Linked DNA regions of Homo sapiens: region 1 is linked to region 2. Evidence: fine-mapped expression QTL. A gene starts in region 2. The other region holds a variant in brackets. All regions are shown on one strand. Distances are from middle to middle.

Region 1 (11,610 bases), 31 kb after region 2:
CCCTTCAAAGGATGTAAAAAAATATTAAATAAAAGAGCTTTCAAAGTGTTCTGTTAGGCTATGATTTGAGGGGGAGATGAATGGAAATGGATATTGATAGTTATTTAACTGGAGATCTTTGTGGTGATATGTGAAAGTATAAACTAACTCCAACAAACTCGTTTTTTCCTGAAACTTTTGGTGTAAAATTATATATTATTATTATTTTGAGACAGGGTCTTGCTCTGTTGCCCAGGCCAGGCTGGAGTGCAGTGGCATGACCTCGGCTCACTGTACCCTTGACCTCCTGGGCTCAAGCGATTCTCCCATCTCAGCCCACTCCCAAGTATCTGGGACTACAGGCATGTGCCACCACTCTTGGCTAATTTTCATATTTTTTCACGGAGATAGGGTTTCACCATGTTGCCCAGGCTGGTCTCGAACTCTTGGGCCCAAGCGAACTGCCCACCTTGGCCTCCCGAAGTGCTGGGATTAACAGGTGTGAGCCATTGCACCCAGCCTGTTATTATTTTGAAAGGTTATTCTGCTTTTACTGAAATGCAACAAACAGTTATTGAGCACCTGCTATATTATTATATAGTCCATTCCTACTAGGCTACCGCAGCCATTGATGATCTTCCTTTGTGTGTGTGTGTGTGTGTGTGTGTGTGTGTGTGTGTGTGTGAAGCTGTTTGTATATTTTCGGTTTTTCGGTTAGTTTGCTTGTGAAGCAGCTTGGAGAAGTCTCATCTACTTTTTATCAGTTGGTTGGTTTTAGAAAGCATCTCAGAAAGTGGACCCAGAAATCGCAGATCTGCCATTAGTATTTATTCTTTGAAGATACTTTGGAGATTCATTTTCTTGAGTGGCACTGCCATGCTCATTCAGTGAAAACTTGTGGGGTATAGAAATGGAATGGAGAGTTTCAAACAGCTTTGCTGAAACTGTACTTTGGGCTCCAGACTTCACTGTCCTTAGGCATTGAAACCATCACCTGGTTTGCATTCTTCATGACTGAGGTTAACTTAAAACAAAAATGGTAGGAAAGCTTTCCTATGCTTCGGGTAAGAGACAAATTTGCTTTTGTAGAATTGGTGGCTGAGAAAGGCAGACAGGGCCTGATTAAAGAAGACATTTGTCACCACTAGCCACCAAGTTAAGTTGTGGAACCCAAAGGTGACGGCCATGGAAACGTAGATCATCAGCTCTGCTAAGTAGTTAGGGGAAGAAACATATTCAAACCAGTCTCCAAATGGGATCCTGTGGTTACAGTGAATGACCACTCCTGAAAGGGTAAAAGAAGATCTCATAAGCATTTAAAGGTTTGAAAAGAAAGTTTCACCACTTCACTCGCAAATCATTTACAGAATTTTTTTTTTTTTTTTTGAGGCAAAGTCTTGCTCTGTTGTCCAGGCTGGAGTGCAGTCGTGCAGTCATGGCTCACTGTAGTCTCAACCTTCCAGGCCCAGGCAATCCTCCCATCTCAAACTGCCCAGTGGCTAGTACCACAGGTATGCATCACCATGCCTGGCTCATTTTTTGAATTTTTTGTAGAGACAGGGTCTGCCTATGTTGCCCAGGTTGGTCTCAAACTGCTGGGCTCAAGTGATCCTCCCACCTCAGCCTCCTAAAGTGCTGGGATTACCAGTGTGAGCCAACCTGCCCAGCCCAGAAACTCTTATTTAGAAAAGAGTATCATACATGTGTGTAAACCACCATCCTGTCACACTTCTACTGTCAATTACATATTGAAAAGTTATATGCTTAGGTTAAATTGTCAACTGTCCATAGCACAAGAGAAAAGCCAGTTACTCCAGCAATCCTCCAAGCTAGTAATTAAGAGCTCAGACTACTCCAGAGTCAGACTGCACAAGTTTAAATCCTGGCTCTCCCACTTACTAGCTGTGTAACTTTAGATAAGTTGCTTAACCTCTTTGTGCCTTAGTTTCCTCATCTGTAAAATGAAGACCGGACTGTAGTCATCTCATGTCGGCATTGTGAAGCTATATGTAAAGCACTCAGAACAGGGCCTGGGACAAAATAAGTACTTGATAAATATTAAAACTATTCAGTTTTTTGGCTGGGCGCGGTAGCTTATGCTTGTAATCCTAGCACTTTGGGAGACTGAGGTGGGCGGATCACCTGAGGTCAGGAGTTCAAAACCAGCCTGGCCAACATGGTGAAACCCCAGCTCTACTAAAAATATAAAAATTAGCCAGATGTGGTGGCACACGCCTGTAATCCCAACTACTTGGGAGGCTGAGGCATGAGAATTGCTTGGATCCAGGAAGCGGAGGTTGCAGTGAGCTGAGATGGTGCCACTGCACTCCAGCCTGGGTGACAGAGTGAGACTCTGTCTCAAAAATAAATAAATAAAATAAATAAATAATAGGCCGGGTGTAGTGGTGCACGCCTGTAATCCCAGCACTTTGGGAGGCCGAGGTGGGTGGATCACCTGAGGTCAGGATTTCGAGACCACCCTGGCTAACATGGCAAAACCTTGTCTGTACTAAAAAATACAAAAATTAGCTGGGCATAGTGGTGCGCACCTGTAGTCCCAGCTACTTGAGAGGCTGAGGCGGGAGAATCACTTGAACCCTGGAGGCGGAGGTTGCAGTGAGCCGAGATTGTGCCACTGCACTACAGCTTGGGTAACAGAGCAAGACTCCATCTCAAAAATTAAATAAATAAATAAATAAATAAATAAATAAATAAATAAAACTATTCAATTTTTTTTTTTGAGACAGTCTAGCTCTGTCACCCAAGCTGGAGCGCAGTGGCGTGATCTCAGCTCACTGCAACCTCCGCCTCCCAGGTTCAAGTGATTCTAGTGCCTCAGCCTCCCAAGTAGCTGGGACTACAGGCACCTGCACCACCGCACCCAGCTAAGTTTTGTATTTTTAGAAGAGACGGGGTTTTGCCATGTTGGTCAGGCTGGTCTTGAACTCCTGACCTCAAGTGATCCTCCTACCTTGGCTTCCCAAAGTGCTGGAATTACAGGCGTGAGCCACTGCGCCTGGCCTATTCAATTTTTAATATTTCAAAAAACCTAATGGAAACTATACCTGTGATAAGTCAACACAAGCTAACTTAAAGGTCAAGTTTTTATGCTGTGGCTGGTACTAACTCCATGGTAACACTAGCTCTCACATGCTGATCAGACACAAAACGTAGAATCACAGAATGTCAGGGCTACTTGGGTCTAGAGAGGTCTTTCAATGTAAGGCTCTCATTTTCACAGATGGGAAGATCAAGGCCCAGAGAAGTGTCTTGCCAAAAATCAATATTTGATACAGTCAACTAACTAGGGCAGGAAGGAAAAGCATGCAGGACCATGGAGAACTAACTTCTGAGGGTTAAAATCCATATGCAGAGGCTCTAAAAGAGGTCTCACCTGCTTTATTTTTCCTGAGATTGCCGAGAATAACATGGCACTTATACTGATGGGCAGATGACCAGATGAACATCATCATCCCAAGAATATGGAACCACCGTGCTTGCATCAATAGATTTTTCCCTGTTATGTAGGCTATAGGAATGAGAATTGTTAGCCAACACTAAACAATTTCACAGGCTCAGGGAATTAAACAAATCATTTAGTCAGCAGAAACACAATTATCCACTTATTCCGTTCCTCAATATCCTAATATAATTTCCCAAGTACAAAGAGGGGAACCTGTTCCTCAATATCCCGATGTAATTTCCTGATGTAATTTCCCAATACAGAGGGAAAAGCCCTGTCTCTCTGGACAAAGGAGATACGTTCCTCAGCTATGGGCAGCTTCAGTTCCCCTGGCAAGAGAATTCCACACAGACACATTCTCTTGCTTCTTCTCTAAACAGTTCAAGCACAAAGTTCAGCTCCCCTACTGTGATCTACTTTCGAATGGTAAGATTCCTTTGTGTTTCCCTTGCTAAGTCCAGTTTTAAGTCTTCTTTCTTATGTTTTACAGTGAAGAAAAACACTTTCTAAGGAAATCTCTCTCTGAGCTACCATCCTGCTAGGGAGAGCCTGAAAGCAGAATGCTGACTTGACTAGCTCTGGTCAATGAAAGAAATCACCAGTGGAAAGGCTACCAGGGGGCTTTCTCAAAAGAGAGGGACAGTAAACTGCAAGATGAACAACTCAATGCCATCCAGGTCTGGATGAGAAAGAACAGTCGAGAGACTGAGTTTCAGGAGTGGAAACACTCAAAGCATCATCTTCCACTTTCTTCTCCGGCTGCTAGGAAGAAGGGAAAAACACAGACCTTCTGAGGACCTGCGGAGCAAACCACTGGCTTCAGAAAAGCAAACAGGGACTTCCCTCTGCGCAGCAGGAAGCAGTTAGCCTAGTCGGAGGCTTGACTGAAGAAACAAATGTATCCACTGATAATGGGCAAGAGCCTGAGGCTCTGGAGCCAAGGGGGAACCCTAAAAAGCTGATTCAAGTAAGAGAACCAAGGATCATGCAATTCCACATGGCCACCTCGAAGCAGGAATCCGTTAATGATAGTAAAGGACTGATGAAAATCCACCGGTCTACCTGTGTCAGTTTATTTTAAAAGCTTGTTTTATATAATCAATCTACTATAGTCTTTTAGTGTTTACAAGTTTAGCCATTTAACTACTAGGTTATATTTTTATAAGTTCAAAACAGGCTGGGTACAGTGGCTCACACCTGTAATCCCAGCACTTTGCGGGGGCCAAGGCAGGAGGATCACTTGAGGCCAGGGGTTTGAGACCAGCCTGCCAACATAGCGAGAACCTGTCTCTACAAAAATGAAATAAGCAAAATATTAAAAATACAGTTTTAAATCTGACAGGCTTCAAGAGCAAGTCAACAGGATGAAAAGTTACAGTGTCTGGAAGTTCAAATCACTAAGTCCCTTATGCTAAATGCAGAGAGTTTACCTACAGGAAAAAGGATTTGTTAAGGGTAACGCCAGAATTATAATGCAGGAAAAGGGAGGCAGGTGGAAGGCTCACATTTCCTCAGTTCTACTCAGTATTTAATTATTTGTTTATTCATTAGTTACTTAAGGAGTGCCTCCTAAGCCTGGCCCTGCTGAAGGCACAAAGGATAAAGCAGGGAATAAGTCAGGCAAGATCCCAGTCCTTATAGAGCTTACATCCTAGTTTACAGATAGTCTTCTTTTCACTTTAAGAAGAACCCTGTGAAATCAGTATGTGTCAATAATTACTAATGAAGGCTGTGAGGCTCAGAGAAGCTCAATGAGCCAGATGCAGGCCCATCAAGACTCTGGAGCCCATGTTATTTCTATCACGCCCTTTGGTTGGCAAATGCCCCAATGTGTTTTCTCTCAATGAATTACTGAAACCAACTTTCCCCATATTGTCCTAAATGATCCCAGATGACCCTTGAAGGACAAGGAGGTGAAACAGAAAACAGCTTCAGAAAGGAGTGCTTAGAAAGCTATTTTTGTGGGCTCCTCTTCCTTGACTATCTACGCAGGAGGGAAGGCAGAAGTTGAGACGCAGCCAGTAGAGGAAACTCCGGGAGAGGCAGGTAACGCCAACAAACAAGAACACGCTAAAAGCTAGCAGTCACCAAGCGCTCTGCAAAGTTCCTTTAGGGGGAGAACCAGCACTGCCCACCAGGAATGACAGCCCCTTCCATGGTACTGGCTGGCAGAATGCCACCACAGACATGCCTGGGAGGAATAAGTTCAGAGGAATCAGAGAGATGCTAGCTAAGTGGCTGGAGCCAATCAATAATTCATGAATTGAGAAAGATCGTCAATAAATCCTTTAAAATCACTCCTCTAGTCAGAGGCCTTAGGTTGAGCTACAGCAACAGAGAGACGACTTTCACGGGGCACTCATACCAAAATCTAACCTGAGGAGGAAGCTCACTCACAGATTGTTGGAAATCGCTAGACCTCAGCCTGAGTTTACAAGGATGGACAGGGCAGCTGAAAACATGGAGCCCTGGGTTTAGAGACAATGGTCATTACAGACCTACGGGGTCTAGACTGACAGATACTAAGGCTGCAAGGTCAGGTTAACCTCAGCACTATAAACTCATTCCCATCACCCCAAGCGACTTGAATTCTTTATAATCATGCATTGTTTTTACAAAAATGGTAGTCATATGTGTTAGGTAATGTCCCCTCCTCCCCCCATAAAACAAAAAATCCATTTCATTTCCTTCTCGTAAACAA[G/A]GTCATGGTTTGGCTCCCCTCTTCCTGGCTAGTGAGAGCTTAGAGACTAAAACACAATTTTCACTACCACAGTACTCTTTGTCCTCTCCTCTCAGGCAGCGTCACTTGAAGAAAAGCTCTATTGTGATGGGAACAATCACAGGAACTAAGCGGCAACAAAATGGCTCCCCACCCCCTCTGCAAATCCCAACTCCATGCAAGCACTCTCCCTTCCCTCATTTTCTTTTCTTTTTTTTTGAGATGGAGTCTCGCTCTGTTGCCCAGGCTGGAGTGCAGTAGCGCGATCTCGGCTCACTGCAACCTCCACCTTCTGGTTTCAAGCAATTCTCCTGCCTCAGCCTCCCCAGTAGCTGGGACTACAGGCGTGTGCCACCACGCCTGGCTAATTTTTTTTTTTAATTTTTAGTAGAGACAGAGTTTCACCATGTTGGCCAGGCTGGTCTCGAACTCCTGGCCTCAAGTGATCCACCTGCCTCAGCCTCCCAAAGTGGTGGGATTACAGGTGTAAGCGACCACGCCCGGCCTTTTAAAATCGACTTGAGTCTCATCTCCTGAAATGCAAAATGCATTGGGCCTGTCTCTTACTTCTGCATGTCTCATAATGCTTAGCACAGCACAAGCCCCGAGAGCGCATCATACACCCTGGGGTGGGGAGCTCCTGGCAGGGCTGGATCCACTCACCATTCCTGCCATCCATTGGCACTTGGCTCAGCACAGTTAGGCCAACAAGGACATAATAGACAAGTCCAAAACAGTACTGCACGACGTGAATCATGACATTGGAGAAGACACTGACGTAGAGGCACTCGAAGAGTCTTCGTAAGCTGTGCAGCCACAGAAATACTAGCACTAAGAATGCAGACAGTGCCAGCTCCCCTCCTACAATTCAGAAGGCAACAGGGTCAGCATTTCTCTTCTGGGATTAATCCAAAGTTTTGTTTTTCTGTACTGTTAAGCAAAGTATTAAATCCCATCTAACATCTTTCTTTTTGGTAGTAAGGAAGAAATGGGCCAAATGAAGTCAAGGAATTTGACTTCACTCAAATTACACAGTTCACTGTGTTACACAGTTCACTGGGTTCACAAACACCCATCACTCAATTCTGCTTCATTGTGTGACAGCCTTCCAGGCTTCAGGGACATCACGGTCAGGAGGTCTGTGAAGAGGTCTGTGGGTTTCTGGTCCTGGCACTAACAGCCAGATGCAAACTGGAAGCGTTCCTGGTAGCCTCTGAGTGGCCCCAGCTGTGGGATCCCCAGTATCTCAGGCATCACAGAGGCAGAGAGGGGGACAGGAACAGAAACAGAGTTATGCATTTCTTTCCACATTAAAAAAAAGAAATTATACTTTTAGAGGCATGCTGAGCCCAAGATCTACTTCCTCACCTGTCTTTCACGACCTGCCCACCAAAAAATCTGAAGAAAAGCTGGCTTTAAAAAAACACACACTTAGTTTCTCTTTTTTTCTTTTTTGTTTTTTATTTTTTGGTTAATTTTATGTGTCAACTTCTTTATTTTTGAGACAGGGTCTTGCTCTGTCACCCAGGCTAGAGTGCAGTGGCACAGTCAGGCCTCACTGCAGCTTTGAACTCCTGAGCTCAAGTGATCCTCTGTCTCAGCTTCCTGAGTGGCTAGAACTATAGTCATGTGCCACCACACCTGACTAATTAAAAAAAAATTTTTTTTGTTGCCCAGGCTGGTCTCGAACTCCGGGCCTCAAGCCATCCTCCAGCCTCAGCCTCCCAAAGTGCTGGGATTTTAGGTGTGAGATACCACGCCCAGTCACTTAAAAAAGAAATGAGTCACGGCCGGGGGCGATGGCTCATGCCTGTAATCCTACCACTTTGGGAGTTGGAGGCGGGTGGATTGCCTGAGCTCAGGAGTTCGAGACCAGCCTGGGCAACATGGTGAAACCCTGTCTCTACTAAAAATACAAAAAATTAGCCAGGCATGGTGGTGTGCGCCTGTAGAACCAGCTACTTGGCAGGCTGAGGTAGTAGAACTGCTTGAACCTGGGAGGTGGAGGTTGCAGTGAGCCAAGATTGGGCCACTGCAATCAGCCTGGGAGATAGAGCAAGACTCTGTCTCCATTAAAAAAAAAAAAAAAAAAGTCTCACACACAAACACACACACACGCATGCACACCATAAAGATGCAACTTAATTAACTTTTACAAATTAAGCCAACCAATCCCACCCATGTAACAGCACCCAGATCCAGAAACAGAACACTTTAGGAAGCTGAGGTTGGAGGATCGCTTGAGACCAGGAGTTTGAGACCAGCCTGGGCAACACAGCAGGTACCCCATCTCTAAAAACATTAAAAAAAAAATTAGCTGGGCATAGTGGCGTGCACCTGTAGTCCCAACTACTCAAGAGGTGGAGGAGGGAGGACTGCTCGAGCCCAGGAGTTAAAGGCTGCAGTGAGCTATGATCATGCCACGGCACTCCAGCCTGTACAACAGAGTGAGACCCTCTCTCTTAAAAAAAGAAAAAGAAAGAAAAAAATGAAACAAACAAAAGAAACAGGCTGGATGCGGTGGCTCATGCCTGTAATCCCAGCACTTTGAGAGGCTGAGGCAGGCGGATCACAAGGTCAGGAGTTCAAGACCAGCCTGGCCAACAGAGTGAAACCCTGTCTCTACTAAAAATACAAAAATTAGCCGGGCATGGTGGCGCATGCCTGTAGTCCCAGCTACTCAGGAGGCTGAGGCAGGAGAATCGCTTGAACCCGGGAGGGGTAGGTTGTGGTGAGCTGAGATCAGGCCACTGCACTCCAGCCTGGGCAACAGAGCAAGGCTCCATCTCAAAAAAAAAAAAAAGAAGAAACAGAACACGAACAGCACCCCCTAGTGTAGGCACGACCCCTCCCCCAAACTTCCCATGGGGAACAACCCCTATCAGCACAGATTAGCTTTGACTGTTTTTGTATTTTAAATGAACTAAAACTTAGTTTTAACTCCTTAGGAACAAGTTAAAGCAAACAAATAGAATTCCTCATATCCTCACAACCAACCCTCCAAATACCAAAACACCCCAGTCAGTCTCACAGTAAACAAACGAAGAGATGAAGTTTTAACGAGTGGAGTGAGATCCGCTGATGTAGCCTACCCTTCCAAAGAGGATGTCCACGGGTTTGCTCTTTTTTTTTAGATGGAGTCTCACTCTGTGGCACAGGCTGGAGTGCAGTGGCATGATCTCAGCTTACTGCAACCTTTGCTTCCTGGGTTCAAGCCATTCTCCTGCCTCAGCCTCCTGAGTAAGTGGGATTACAGGCACGCGCCACCACGTCCCGCTAATTTTTTGTATTTTTAGTAGAGACGGGGGTTTCACCATGTTGGCCAGGCTGGTCTTGAACTCCTGACCTCAAGTGATCCACCTGCTTCAGCCTCCCAAAGTGCTGGGGTTATAGGTATGAGTCACTGCCCACTGTTCCCGGCAGGGTTTGCTCTTTTTTTTTTTTTTTTTTTTGAGACGGAGTCTTGCTCTGTCCTCTTAGGCTAGAGTGCAACGTTACAATCTTGGCTCACTGCAACCTCTGCCTCTTGGGTTCAAGCAATTCTCTCTCCTCAGCCTACCGAGTAGCTGGGGTTACAGGCATGTGCCAGCACACCCAGCTAAGTTTTGTATTTTTAGTAAAAACGGGATTTCACCATGTTGGCCAAGGTGGTCTTGAATTCTTGACCTCAAGTGATCTGCTCACCTCAGCCTCCTGAAGTGCTGGGATGAGAGGCATGAACCACCACACCCGGCCGGGGTTTGCTCTTCTGATTGTCATCTTTTGCAACCAGTTTATCTGGTTATACAGAAAAGGATTGTTTCTAGGTGGTTTGGCCACTGGAACAAAGGACAGAGATGAGACTAGAACAATTTGTTTCTAATTCTGCCCCTCACACTCTGCCTGACCTTAATTGAGGACATTTCATAGTTTTCACCTTCAATTCTTTATTTTAAAAACTGTTCTGGCCGGGCGCGGTGGCTCACACCTGTAATCCCAGCGCTTTGGGAGGCCAATGCGGGTGGATCACCTGAGGTCAGGAATTCGAGACCAGCCTGACCAACATGGAGAAACACCATCTCTCTACCAAAAATACAAAATTAGCTGGGCGTGGTGGCACATGGCTGTAATCCCAGCTACTTGGGAGGCTGAGGCAGGAGAATCGCTTGAACCTGGGAGGCAGAGGTTGCAGTGAGCCAAGATTGCACCATTGCACTCCAGCCCGGGCAATAAGAGCGAAACTCCATCTCAGAAAAAAAAAAAAAAACGTTCCATATTCTTCATCCTGATGCTGAGGATGGCAAACTTAAAGGCTATTTTGTAATCGTCTGTTCAACAACTGTTTAGTCAATTTTATTATACTACCAAAGCCTCACAGCATAACTTTTTTTCCATGTTTATCAAAAAGTAATTTTTATTTATTTTATTCATTTATTTATTTATTTTTTTGAGACAAAGTCTCCCTCTGTTGCCCAGGCGTGGAGTGCAGTAGCTCAATCTTAGCTCATGGCAACCTCCGCCTCCCAGGTTCAAGCGATTCTCCTGCCTCAGCCTCCCGAGTAGCTGGGATTACAAGCGCCTGCCACCACACCCAGCTATTTTTGTATTTTTAGTAGAGTTGGGGTTTCACCACATTGGCCAGGCTGGTCTTGAACTCCTGATCTCAAGTGATCTGCCTGCCTTGGCCTCCCAAAGTGCTGGGATTACAGGTATGAATTAAAAAGTAATTTTTTTTTTTTTTGAAACACAGTCTCGCTCTGTTGCCCAGGCTGGAGTGCAGTGGCCCGATCTCAGCTCACTGCAAGCTCCGCCTCTCGGGTTCATGCCATTCTCCTGCCTCAGCCTCCCGAGTAGCTGGGGCTACAGGTGCCCGCCACCATGCCCAGCTAACTTTTTTTTGTATTTTTAGTAGAGACAGGGTTTCACCGTGTTAGCCAGGATGGTCTCGATCTCCTGACCTTGTGATCTGCCCGCCTTGGCCTCCCAAAGTGCTGGGATTACAGGCGTGAGCCACCGCACCCGACAGAAAAAGTAATTTTTAAATCACATTTCTGGAGTTCTAAGTCATGAGTTTGGTTGGAACAGTATAAATGATAAATGTTTCCAGACAAACCTGACAGATCCTAAAAGCTTTCCCCCTTTTGTGTAAAGACTTCTTCATAAATTTATCAACAGTACTAAAAATACCAGAGGGAGGGCAGCCAGTTCTGCACACAACACAGCACTTGCTGGGAAGTCAGGAGCGCTAACTCTTGGCTCTGTCTCCTTCTCAGGGAAGGGCTTAGGGACATCCTTTTGGCCATCCGGCAATGAACCGTGCAAAGCTCTTTTTTGCCCTCATCCTCCACTTCCCAGGCCCTTCTGAGGAGGTGCCGAGAGAGGAGACAAAATGCCAAAAACTGCTCCCTTGCAGACAGGAACAACAGAAACGGGATGCAGCGTTGTCATAAGCCCAGGGAGTCCTTACCCT
Region 2 (11,610 bases):
TCTTAGCTGTATAAAGGCTAGAATTAGGAGGCTGGACTGGGTGGAGTGGGACTGCAACTTAATGAAAATAGAAAAAAGTTTAAAATGTTTTGTAGAAGGTACTCTCACAGCTGAAACGTAATAAATAAATGAAATACCAAAACATAAAGTAAAAATATGATAACAAGAACAGGCACTGAGTCAGGTAATGATTTTGTGGCTTTATTAGAAGTGCTATGCAACCAGAGTCATTCTTCTTTGGACTTCCAGAATATGCAATAAAGTCTAAATGACTTTTATTAAATCTATCTGATCTCCCTCAACTCAAAGGACTTATGTTTCTTATATTACATATTCTGTCCAGGGAAAGAGTAAGAAAAAACTATTGAGTAAGTCACTAGAAACATAAACTGCAGAAAAGATAGGATCCAAGTAATCAACAACACTTTTTATCATGGGTTTGTAAATTGGGGGTTAATCTTGATTTTAAGTTCATATTACTTACCAACCTTTTTTTAGCCTAATTATAGAGAAAAGCACATACTCAATGTAGAATGCCCTGTTAGAAGTTCAGTCACCTTGCTTTTAGCATCCTATAAGATACAACTAGGTTTTTATAACATATCTTCCACTTGAATGCCTACTAACCAAGGAGAGATGCTTCCCCCCTCCATTTTCAGAAGCCCACTCTCACACAGTGGCACAAAAAGGTTAAATTTAAATATCCTACCTACCCTCTTAAAACATCTACTGCATGTAGTTGCAAAGCAAATCCGTTGAAACTTACATATTCAGCAAGGCTCAACTCTTGCTAATACTGCTGTTAAACTGTACTTTGATCATTTCTTACCTCCATCAGGTGGACAAAAATAGCCAATGACACTTATATTACATAGTTTAGAAAACATGTGAAAGAAAAATCTTTCAGCATAGTGAGTACCGTAGAGGAAAAAATACTTGAGTAGTATCAAAAAGTTACATAAAAATATAATTAAGGCCAGGCGTGGTGGCTCACTCCTGTAATCCCAGCACTTTGGGAGGCCGAGGCAGGCGGATCACCAGGTCAGGAGATGGAGACCTCCTGGCTAACACGGTAAAACCTCGTCTCTACTAAAAATACAAAAAATTAGGCGGGCATGGTGGCGGGCGCCTGTAGTCCCAGCTATGCTGGAGGCTGAGGCAGGAGAATGGCGTGAGCCTGGAAGGCAGACCTTGCAGTGAGCCAAGATCACGCCACTGCACTCCAGCCTGGGCGACAGAGTGAGACAAAAAAATATATATATATTATATATATTATATTTTTATATTTTAATATAAATATATTAATTATATTAATATTATTTATTATTATTATATTAATATAATTAATTATATTAATATAATATAATTAATATTATATTATATATAATACAGTATTAATATTATATATAATATTATATATAATATATAATATTATATTATATATTATATATTAATATAATATAATATTAATTACATTAATATATTAATATATAATATAAATATAAATTATATATTTATATATTATTTTTTATATATATTATATATATAAAATAAAAACAAGACAAGGCCAGGCATGATGGCTCATGCCTGTAATCCCACCACTTTGGCAGGCCAAGAGGGGAAGATCCCTTGAGCCCAGGAGTTTGAGGGCAGGCTGAGCAACATAGTGAGACCCTGTCTCTAAAAAAAAAAAAAAGGAAGAAAAGAAGACAATTATATTCTATTATAATACAAAATTAGAATAAACAATAATAAATAAATGCCTAACTAAAATGAATCACCAAGAATATATGAAAATATTAAACGGAAAAATCATATTATATTATACCCACCCTTCCCTCCATACCCCTAGTTTTAAAGACAAGGATCCCTTCCCAGCTACTCAGAAGGCTGAGGCAGGAGGATGGCCTGAGTCCAGGAGCTGGAGGCTGCAATGAGTTATGAGCTATAAGAAGACCTTGTCTCTATAAAAAAAATTAAATAAAACTTTAAAAGACAAGAATCCTTAAGACCATTTAATATGTTTACTGGACACTGTTTCTACCACTGTGGCATTCTGCATGGCTAGATTTTTCCTAGCTTCTTAAAAAGGATATTAGTAGCTCTACACCTACCATCATTTCTATCTTAAAAATTCCAATATGACTAAAACTTCAACAAAATACCTGCAAAGTTACATATTCATAATCTCTCACTCACACAATTAACTTAATCCAAAATAGTTATTGTTTTAAAATAAATGTGATACTGGGGTAAATGACAGGGCTAAAAGATGAACACTAAGAATTAAGTTCATCAATCAGCGTTTCAGTTCAATTACTGAAGTGGACATGTCAAGCAGGGTCAGCTGAGCCAGGAGCGACAAGCAGGGCAGTGTAAATGGGAACCCCACTCCTAAGCATATGGCTGGGGGTAGCAGGGCAGGCAGAAGGAAAAAGATGGAGAAGCCCACTCACCTCTTTGCTCTCCCCAAGTGGACTAAAGACCCTGGCTTCACATGTTAAATGATTCACACTTCTTGTACACCTCTGACATCACTGCATTATATCTCTCTGTTACCATGGGTTATTTACTCGTTGAGTTCCAGTGCTTTTGATCTTCTCTTTTTCTCTTTTTAAAAAAAACTTTATAAGAGTCCCGGAATTAACTATATAGTCAGCTGAAAATAAACTGTCTAAACCAACACCAATCCAATAATGGTTACAAAATCACATTATATCCAGCAGATGATAAAAGCTTAGTTCTCTTAATTCCATCTGGTGGATCCCTTGCAACTTAAAAAAAAAAGGTTGGATAGACACTATTAAAAATCGGGTTGTTGTTTTTTTTTTTTTTTCCTGGTTGAGTTTATTTTACAGCCAGTTTTTCCAGAAAGGTATTTAACAGCTGATATAAACTTGACATGCAACTACTTCAACCCAGTCTTAGAAAATTAGTTAATAAATGCCAAGAACAGACAAGGTCTTCTGGAATAGACAGATGAGTAAGCCAGAGTCATGCTCTCAAGACACCTAAAAGCTAGTAGGGGCAGATAAAACACGCACACAACTTGCAAGAACCCAAGGCAGCAAGATGTGTGTGTAAACATGCCACAACATACACAATAAAGTTCCCAAAAAAGGAGAAAGAGAAAGCTAGGCTCAAGATCAAAGAACTGCACCAGCATACAATCCAATAAACCATTAAAATCCATTAGTGAATTAAATAAGTCAAAAGAGTAAGACACAATGAATGCTAATAAAACTTAGTAAGGCACAGAAGTCCAGATTCTAATTCTGGTTCTGCTGAAACTAGCTTCTAGCTCTGTGATATTAAACCACTATTCCTTACAAACCTCCTCTACCTGTTTAACGTGCTGTTGTGAGGATTAAATCGGCTCCCAGAATCTTCACTTCCCAGTAACTTTATCTCCCAGATTCCCTCCCATATCAGAATCTCCTCATAGGCAGTTAGTTATTCAACTTCTTCCTGAGTACTTCCAGTAAGGGGAACTTCATTATTTCTCAATAGCGATTACTACATCTGGGACAGCACTGATTCTTACAAATGTTCTTGCTTAGTGAAACCAAGATCAGTCTCTCAGAAAGTTCTATCCTACGGTCTTACACAGAAAAACAACAGAAAATTGGAAAAGCCTAAGAAAGTAACATGTAACGAAAACATGAAACACGAAAACAATGCACCGGTGTGAGAGCTCACCAGCACTTGGGAGGCCAAGGCCGGAGAAGCGCTTGAGCCCAGGAGTTTGAGACTAGACTCGGCAACATAGTGAGACCTCCTCTCTCAAAAAAAAAAAAAATAAACAAAAATTAGCCGGGCGTGTCAGCACACGCATGCAGTCCCAGCCACTCAGGAGGCTGAGGTGGGAGGATCAATTAGAGGTTGCAGTGAGCCAAGACGGGGCCACTGCACTCCAGCCTGGGCGACAGAGCGAGACCCTGTCTCAACAAAGAAAAAGGAAAAAGGAAAGGAAGGGAGAAAGGAAAGGAAAAAGGAAAGGAAAGGAGAAATGAAAGGAATGGAAAGGAAAAAGGAGAAAGGAGAGGAAAGGAAAAAGGAGAAAGGAGAGGAAAGGAAAGGAAAGGAAAGGGTCAGATAAATCACCCTTAACCAAGAAATTTTAGGGAAGTCTTCACAGAGAGTAGGTATCTGCTGGTTCTCCAAGGTGGGAAGAGTTGATCCGTGGCTTCAAACTCCAGGTCTTTTTTTTTTTTTCTTTGAAAAGGTCTTGTGTTAGGGAGGAACTGGCAAGAGAGCACAAAGCCTGTCCCAAAGGGCTCTTGAAGCACATTCTTTTTTGCAGATGAGCATATCCCTTTAGCATATGAGCAAGAAAGCGGTGGCTAAAAAGCCTGGAGGTGAGCTGGAGCCAGATCAGAAGAAACCTGAACATCACTCTCCTAAAAAGGCTGGACTGAAATTAGTGGAGGCAACTCACCGACGACTTCTGACAAGATGGCAGAATTCAATGTTCGGGAAGATTAGTTACGTGGAGATGGGCTGGATGTGGCCTGGGTGGGAGTGGGGGTTTGAGTGCCACACTGGCCGGGATTCAGGGAGCAGATACTGGAAATGACGACAAAGCCCACGACTGGGAGAAGGGAGAAATGTTAAAACGCTGCCAAGTGACTAAGGACTAATTCTATTAACAGATTAAAAAGTTGATTTCTAGTATCTATTCAGGGAAGGACAAAATACAGGATTCTGTTTTACTTATAAATGTAGTTTTGGCATCCCACATCGCTGCAGCACGCTGTACTGCCGGAGACTAATTCCTCTGCGTTCCTAAAGGCTACTTCCTGCTAGCCAAAGCACATTTTTAAAAAGTGAGAGTCATGGTTCATAATCCATATTTGGCAAAAAGCACAGGCAGTGCCAAGTTGAATTTGGGTAAGCAGTTTGGCATAAGCTATTTCAACAATGAAATGGCCGATGTGATGATCCTCAGGGAATACAAAAAGCCTCCTAGCAGCCTTCTGTTAAAAACTTTTTGGTAGGGATGAGTCTTTCTAGCTACTCTAAGACACATCTGATCAATAAAACGCCCATCCCGGAGCAGCATCTTGGCCCTCCGGAGATCAACGTTTATAGCGGGCTCCTCTTGGACTCTCCCTCTCCCTTTCCCTAAAGGAGCGGGCAAGACCAGGCCTCACCGGAAAACAGCGCAGCCGACCGCCCTCCACCCCGGGAGCAGGGGCCGGGCTCCCCTCCCCCAGCCGAGGCCGGCGGAGTGCGGCGCTTTCAAAGGCCTGGAGCCTGGTACTCGGCGCAGCCGGCCCTGCAGCCTCGCTCGCCCCATCCCGGCCCGCTCACCTCGACCCGGGCCGGCTCGGGGCCCTGCACAGCCACAGGCTGCGGCTGCAGCTGCTGGGCCGGCGCCGGCGGTTCTTTGTTCCGGTGGCTAAGGTCTTCATCTGGGCCGGCCCGGACCGCAGCCGGGGCCCACAGCAGCGGAACCAGAAAGAGCAGAAGCAGCCGGGGCGCCGATGCGCGGCCGTTCCCTGGAGCCGCGGCCGCCATCCCGCCTGCCGGGCCGGCCGCGCACGGGCGCCGCAAGAGGAAGTGCCGGCGACGGGAAGCCTCGACCCCGAACAGCCTCCGCGGCGCGTCCTCACGACTCGCCGCCGCCGCCGCTTAGGGAGCAGTCAGCACCATCCGGGAGGTGCAAGCAGCGGGAGTGAGGTGAGGGGCAGGCCGAAGTCCGCAGCCCCGGCTCGGCGCCCGTCCTCTCCGGCGGCGGCTAAACTGGAGTCAGCCAGCTGCCTCGGCGCGGCCCAGCCCCGACTCCTCCCGGCCCCGTCCCTGCCCGCGACGGCCTCCCATTGGCCCGGCGACCGCCTTGGCGTCGTGACGTCCTCTGCCAGGTTGAGGTGCGGCGCGGGCCCTCCTCCCATTGGATCCGGCGCTCCCGGCAGGTACCCGGCGCCGCGTGTCCTTCCTCTGCTCGCATCCTCACCGCGCCGCGCCCGGGGCTCCCTTTCTCTCTCTGTGCCCCACCGTCCCAGGACTGCGAGGTCCTTCACTTCTGCTTCCTCCAGAGCCTTCCGCCGTAATGTCCGCACCCGCTGTTCCCTGCGCTTAGTCTCTCTTAGAGGTCAAATTAGTGCGAGCGCCTCTGGTTACGTGGCGCTGACTCGCAGGCACTGCCACGCCCAGCTCTGTTCCGCTCTCCCCCGCCGAGCCTCTGTGCCACCCTCCATGTGGCCACCTACCGCCAAAAACGTTCTTAGGAGCTCAAAATGCTATTTTTTTTTTAAAGTTCTGAAATGGGATTTGGAAATAACATGACATTTTTCAAGCCTTGTTTTAAGATACTGCCTATAATTACCCCAGACCAAAAATGGCTAACGTTGCCCTTGTCCAGTATGGCCTTGACGTTTTGGGTGCATCTTGTTTTGTGCTATTCCTTAGACCCTTTAAAAATGCTGGGCTTTTGAAATGGACTGTTTAAGACTTTTGCAGGATGGAGCTTTGAGTGGGCAAGACTAGAAGACAGGAAAGGATGGTCTTGAGTTAGGCTTGAGAATATTTTTACGTCTTCCCAAAAGAAAAAGTGAGCTACTTAATTACCATAAGTTTGAGACCTAGTCCCTAATAAAAATCGATAGTGCTAACCATGTGCCAGGCACTAATCTAATATTATACATATTTACATACAGTAAACCTGTACTCAGTAAAGAGCTAAGGAAGTTTATCACTAACTGAAACAAAAAATTAATCCACCAAAACAATCTGTGGGAAAGTGGGCAAACCTACTTTGAGTTCACCAAAGATACAGTGTTTGTCACAGGATAATAAAATTTCCGTCTGTTTTTTTGTTTTGTTGTTTTCTTTGTTTTTGTTTTTGAGACGGAGTTTCGCGCTTGTTGCTCAGGATGGAGTGCAATGGTGAGATCTCGGCCCACTGCAACCTCCTCCTCCCGGGTACAAGAGATTCTCCTGCCTCAGCTTCCCGAGTAGCTGGGATTACAGGCATGCTCCACCATACGCGGCTAACTTTGTAATTTTAGTAGAGATGGGGTTTCTCCATGTTGGTCAGGCTGGTCTCGAACTCCAGACCTCAGGTGATCTGCCGGCCTCGTCCTCTCAAAGTGCTGGGATTACAGGTGTGAGCCACCGCGGCCGGCCTCCGTCCATGTTATTCTGTCCGTAATTCCCCTTCTTCCATTCTCTCCTTGTAAACTCCTACTCATACTTCCAAAACCTATTCAAGCTTCCACTCTCAGAACTTTTCCCCAACACATGGCGTTACAGAATTTGTCACTTGTTCCTTCATGTTATTGCTTTATGCATTCTTCTATTACTGTGTAAGTAGGATGCCTCCACTTACAGTTTGGGGTGTGTTAAAAGAAAAACCTTAGACAAATTAAACTTAACAGCGTTTAATCAAGCAAAGAACCCAAAGAATGATCTGCAAATCAAAAAGACCCCAAATCAAAGTAAGTTCAGAGAGGCTCCAGTCTTGCCGAGTGGTCGGAAAAAATAAAGTGACTTACAGAAAACATAATTGAGGGACAGAAACAGCTGGATTGGTTGTAGCTCAGGTTTGCCCTATTTGAACACGGTTTGAACAGTTGGCCACTTGTGATTGGCCAGAACTCTGTGATTGGTACAAGAATAGGTTACAGTCTGTTTACATACCCAATTAGGCTACAGTTCACCATGTATGGGGAAACCTTTAGGCCTAACTTAAAATATGTAAGGAGGCAGCTTTACACTAAATTTAACAGATGCAACTATCATCCCTGGAGTGCAAATGTTTGAGCTTTCAGAAGCCAGTAATAACATAAAACCCAGAAGCCCAAACTTCAACTACCTCCCCTTAATGCATACAGGATTTGCTGTGCTTAAAAGGGGCCTGAAAGGGAGGCTTGAGGTCCCAAGGGAGGGACCTGAAAGGAGCAGCTTAGGCTGAAGACAGAGCCAGAAGGGTGAATGTAGCAAAACTGGCTGTGTGTCCCTCATTGCTGAAAGCTGCTTTGTTTATTTTCTAGGATGGGCTGCCCACACTCCAGGGCTTTCTCACAGGAAGGACTCCTGGCCAAATTCAGTCATCTCAACATATGAGGCAGTGAGGACTTCTGGGCTACAGCTGCAGGATGCTGAAGCACCAGCTGCTGAGCATGCAGTGGTTCAGGGGCAAGGCAGCAAAGCTATTTGGCAGAAGATGTAACATAAATGGAGATAGAGCATTGGCGAACTGGCACAGTGGTGTCAGCAAAGCATCAGAATCTGGGCCAGAGTGAGACCTTTCTAGCCTGCCCCAGTGTCACCCTGATCCAAGGGCCTTCAGGTGCTGCCAGGCTAGGCTCTAGGTGTCTGATTCTCATGGGATCTGGTATTTCTGTTTCCACACACATCTACCTCCTGGGATCCGTGCTCAGGCGTGCTAAATCGAGGCTGGCTCCAGTTTTCACCACCTTGAGGGTTTAGAGCCATCATCCTTCTAGTCCTCATTGGTGACTAACTCCCTTAAAAAAAGCAATTAAAAAACTATAGGAGCTTTCCTGATACCTTTCTTGAAGGACAACTGAAGCTACTTATTTAACCCCCTACCCAATAAGGATGTGGGTGGCGCAACAATTCCAAGATGATATATTTTTTAATCATAGCCTACACCGATATAGTCTTACTAAAATGTAACCACTGTCAGGCATCCTATGGAAAGAAACCCTACTACATGTGCATTACATTGTATTTTATTTAATTAATTTATTTATTTATTTTTGAGGTGGAGTCTCGCTCTGTTGCCCAGGCTGGAATGCAGTGGCAAGATCTCGGCTCACTGCAGCCTCCGCCTCCCGGGTTCAAGCAATTCTCCTGCCTCAGCCTCCTGAGTAGCTGGGATTACAGGCATGTGCTACACGCCCCACTAATTTTTTGTATTTTTAGTAGAGACGGGTTTACCATGTTAGCCAGGATGGTCTTGATCTCCTGACCTCGTGATCCGTCCGCCTTGGCCTCCCAAAAGTGCTGGGATTATAGGCATGAGCCACTGTGCCTGACCTATATTTTATTTTTTATTTATTTATGTAGAGATGGAGTCTCGCTCTGTCACCCAGGCTGGAGTGCAGTGGTGCGATCTCAGCTCACTGCAACCTCTACCTCCCAGGTTCAAGCGATTCTCCTGCCGCAGCCTCCAAAGTAGCTGGGACTATAGGCGCCCGCCACCATGCCTGGCTAATTTTTGTATTTTTAGTAGAGACAGGGTTTCACCATGTTAGCAAGGCAGGTCTCGAACTCCTGACCTCAAGTAATCCATCCACCTCGGCCTCCCAAAGTGCTGGGATTGCAGGTGTGAGCCACTGAGCCGGGCCTGCACTGTATTTTAATGTCTTTTATTCCAACACCCTTACTAAGCCTTAAGCTTCTAGATGGTAAGGTTATGCCTTTTATCTTTATATTTCTAGCACCTAGTAGATTATATAAGAAGGTAATGGGAATAGTTATCATTAAAGTAGTAGTAAAACTTTATTGAATGCTATTCTGATCCAGTCAGAGCACTAAGTGTGTTACATGAATTATTTCTATCCTCCTTTTTGCAAATGAGAAATCTGAGACTTAGGTCAAGGAACTTTCCTCAAATTACACAGCTAGTAAGTAGCAGAATTATGCCTCATACCTGTTTGTTGAATTCACCTATGCTCCACTTACTGAAAATCTACTTTATGAAAATTTAAATATATAAGACCAGCCAATTAATTAATGGTGAACATTTTCATTAACTGTTAGAGAATGCTGTTTCTCCACTCTAGGGTTCTATTGAAAAGGACTATTTCCTGCTGGGTGCGGTGGCTCATGCCTGTAATCCCAGCACTTTGGGAGGCCGAGGCGGGCGGATCATGAGGTCAGGAGTTTGAGACCAGCCTAGCCAATGTAGTGAAACCTCGTCTCTACTAAAAATACAAAAGTTAGCCAGGCGTAGTAGTGTGTGCCTGTAGTCCCAGCCACTTGGGAGGCTGAGGCAGAAGAATCGCTTGAATCCGGGAATTGGAAGTTGCAGTGAGCCAAGACCGCGCTACTACACTCCTGCCTGGGCGACAGAGAGATGCTCTGTCTCAAAAAAAAAAAAAAAAGAAAAAGAAAAGGACTATTTCCTGGCCTCTTTCAGTGCCTTCGTCATTCCCCTCTGATAATGTAGAGTCCATCTGAGCAGGGTAACTGAGCATATTGGGCTCAGCTTCATTGCCTTCTTCCTCTGGGGAGACAGACCCCTAAGGGAAAAACATTATCTGCTGTTCTCTCCAGGGCTTGCCCCTAGCCCAGTGCAGCCTGCAACTCAACAGCTCTTGATTCTGGAGTTCAGTATTAGCCCAGTCCACCTGGCCACCAGACCTAAAACTATTCCTTCCAACCCGGCCTCCTGTCTGTGTCACTCTCTGTTTTCATCCTCAATGTTTCAGAAATAGGGAGAAGTGAGCTATTTCCTGAGCTCTGCTGGAGAACCCTCCTTCCCCATAATCAGCAAAGGGCCGATTAAAGTTTTTTCCTTAAATAGTCCACAGAGCAAAGGTTGGTTAAAGAAGCCAGGGCAGGGAGATATGAGGAAAGAGGAGAAGCAAAAACCAGAAACTTCACGCTAAGAGTCAACTGAAGATCATTCAAATTTAAAGCACTCAGGCTGGGCACGGTGGCTCACACCTGTAATCCCAGCACTTTGGGAGGCCGAGGCAGCTGGATCACCTGAGGTCAGCAGTTTGAGACCAGCCTGACCAATGTGGTGAAACCCTATCTCTACTGAACATACAAAAATTAGCTGGGTGTGGTGCCGTGTGCCTGTGGTCCCTGCTACTTGGGAGGCTGAGGCAGGAGATGGCTTGAACCCGGGAGGTGGAGGTTGCAGTGAACTGAGATCACACCACTGCACTCCAGCCTGGGCAACAGAGCAAGACTCTGTCTCAAAAAAAAAAAAAAAAATTAAAGCACTCAGCAAATGTAAGTGAATGACGAATAGCAATATGCAACTTGCTTGACCTTCTCAACTCTTTAAAGCTCATGAAACGAAGCACACTGCTACCCATCAGCTTGCTAAACCCCTTTAAATGATGGGGATCTGGACCCTTGTATGCGAACTCTGCTGGTGCAGGGGAAAGGGAGGGCAGCTGTTTCCCTACATTCTTGGGCTTTCCTAGGTTTCCACAAGCAGGCTGAAAATTCCAAAAAGAATGCTAAATACATGCTCCAGGTTCATTTATCCAACTCTTTCCTTGCATCACCTTCTGGATGTTTCACAGGCATTTCCAACAGAGCAAGGGCAAAACAGGTCTTTTGATGTCCCTCCAAAAACCTGTTCCTCCTTCAGGCTTTCCATCTTAGTAAATGGAACCAACATCCACCATATTAGATTACTCCATTAGATTCCCCATACCCCACATCCAATCCACCAGCAAATTTTGTCTCTAATTTTAAAATCTATCTGAATCTGTTCACCTCTATCTCCACTGTTACCACCTTGTACAAACCAGGTGTCATTTCTCACCTGGACAATTAAATGGGCTCCTAATTGGTCTCCCTGCCTCTGCCAATCTAGAATCTAACCAGCAGCCAGAATGAGCTTTCAAAATTAAAATAATTTCATTCCACTGCTTAAAAGTAATGACTTCTAAATGG

Which allele goes with the higher level. Alleles are on the strand shown, and positions count from the first base shown. SD is a standard deviation of normalised expression in the study named.
As copies of A replace G in region 1, the expression in tibial nerve of the gene that starts at base 5,753 in region 2 goes down (moderate effect, 0.49 SD a copy in GTEx).

The links. PIP is the estimated chance that this variant, and not a neighbour inherited with it, causes the effect.
Region 1: its variant is fine-mapped to the expression of TMEM165 in tibial nerve (GTEx, PIP above 0.99).

The regions. Positions count from the first base shown.
Region 1 is chr4:55,359,486-55,371,095 of GRCh38, reverse strand. It overlaps SRD5A3 (steroid 5 alpha-reductase 3), which reads right to left. Exons shown (of 5, transcript NM_024592.5): 2 at 11,608-11,610; 3 at 6,825-7,022; 4 at 3,374-3,508; 5 at 1-1,264. The coding sequence ends at 1,005. It overlaps SRD5A3-AS1 (SRD5A3 antisense RNA 1), which reads left to right. Exons shown (of 4, transcript NR_037969.1): 4 at 3,933-4,495. Among named protein-coding and RNA genes, the nearest start is that of LINC02928, 13 kb to the left of the region's middle. RefSeq lists enhancers at 5,144-5,831, 5,832-6,520. The variant G/A (reference allele first, on the strand shown) is at 6,144.
Region 2 is chr4:55,390,100-55,401,709 of GRCh38, reverse strand. TMEM165 (transmembrane protein 165) reads right to left here and starts at 5,753. Exons shown (of 6, transcript NM_018475.5): 1 at 5,314-5,753. The coding sequence starts at 5,520. RefSeq lists an enhancer at 3,528-3,577 and silencers at 5,078-5,547, 5,748-5,947.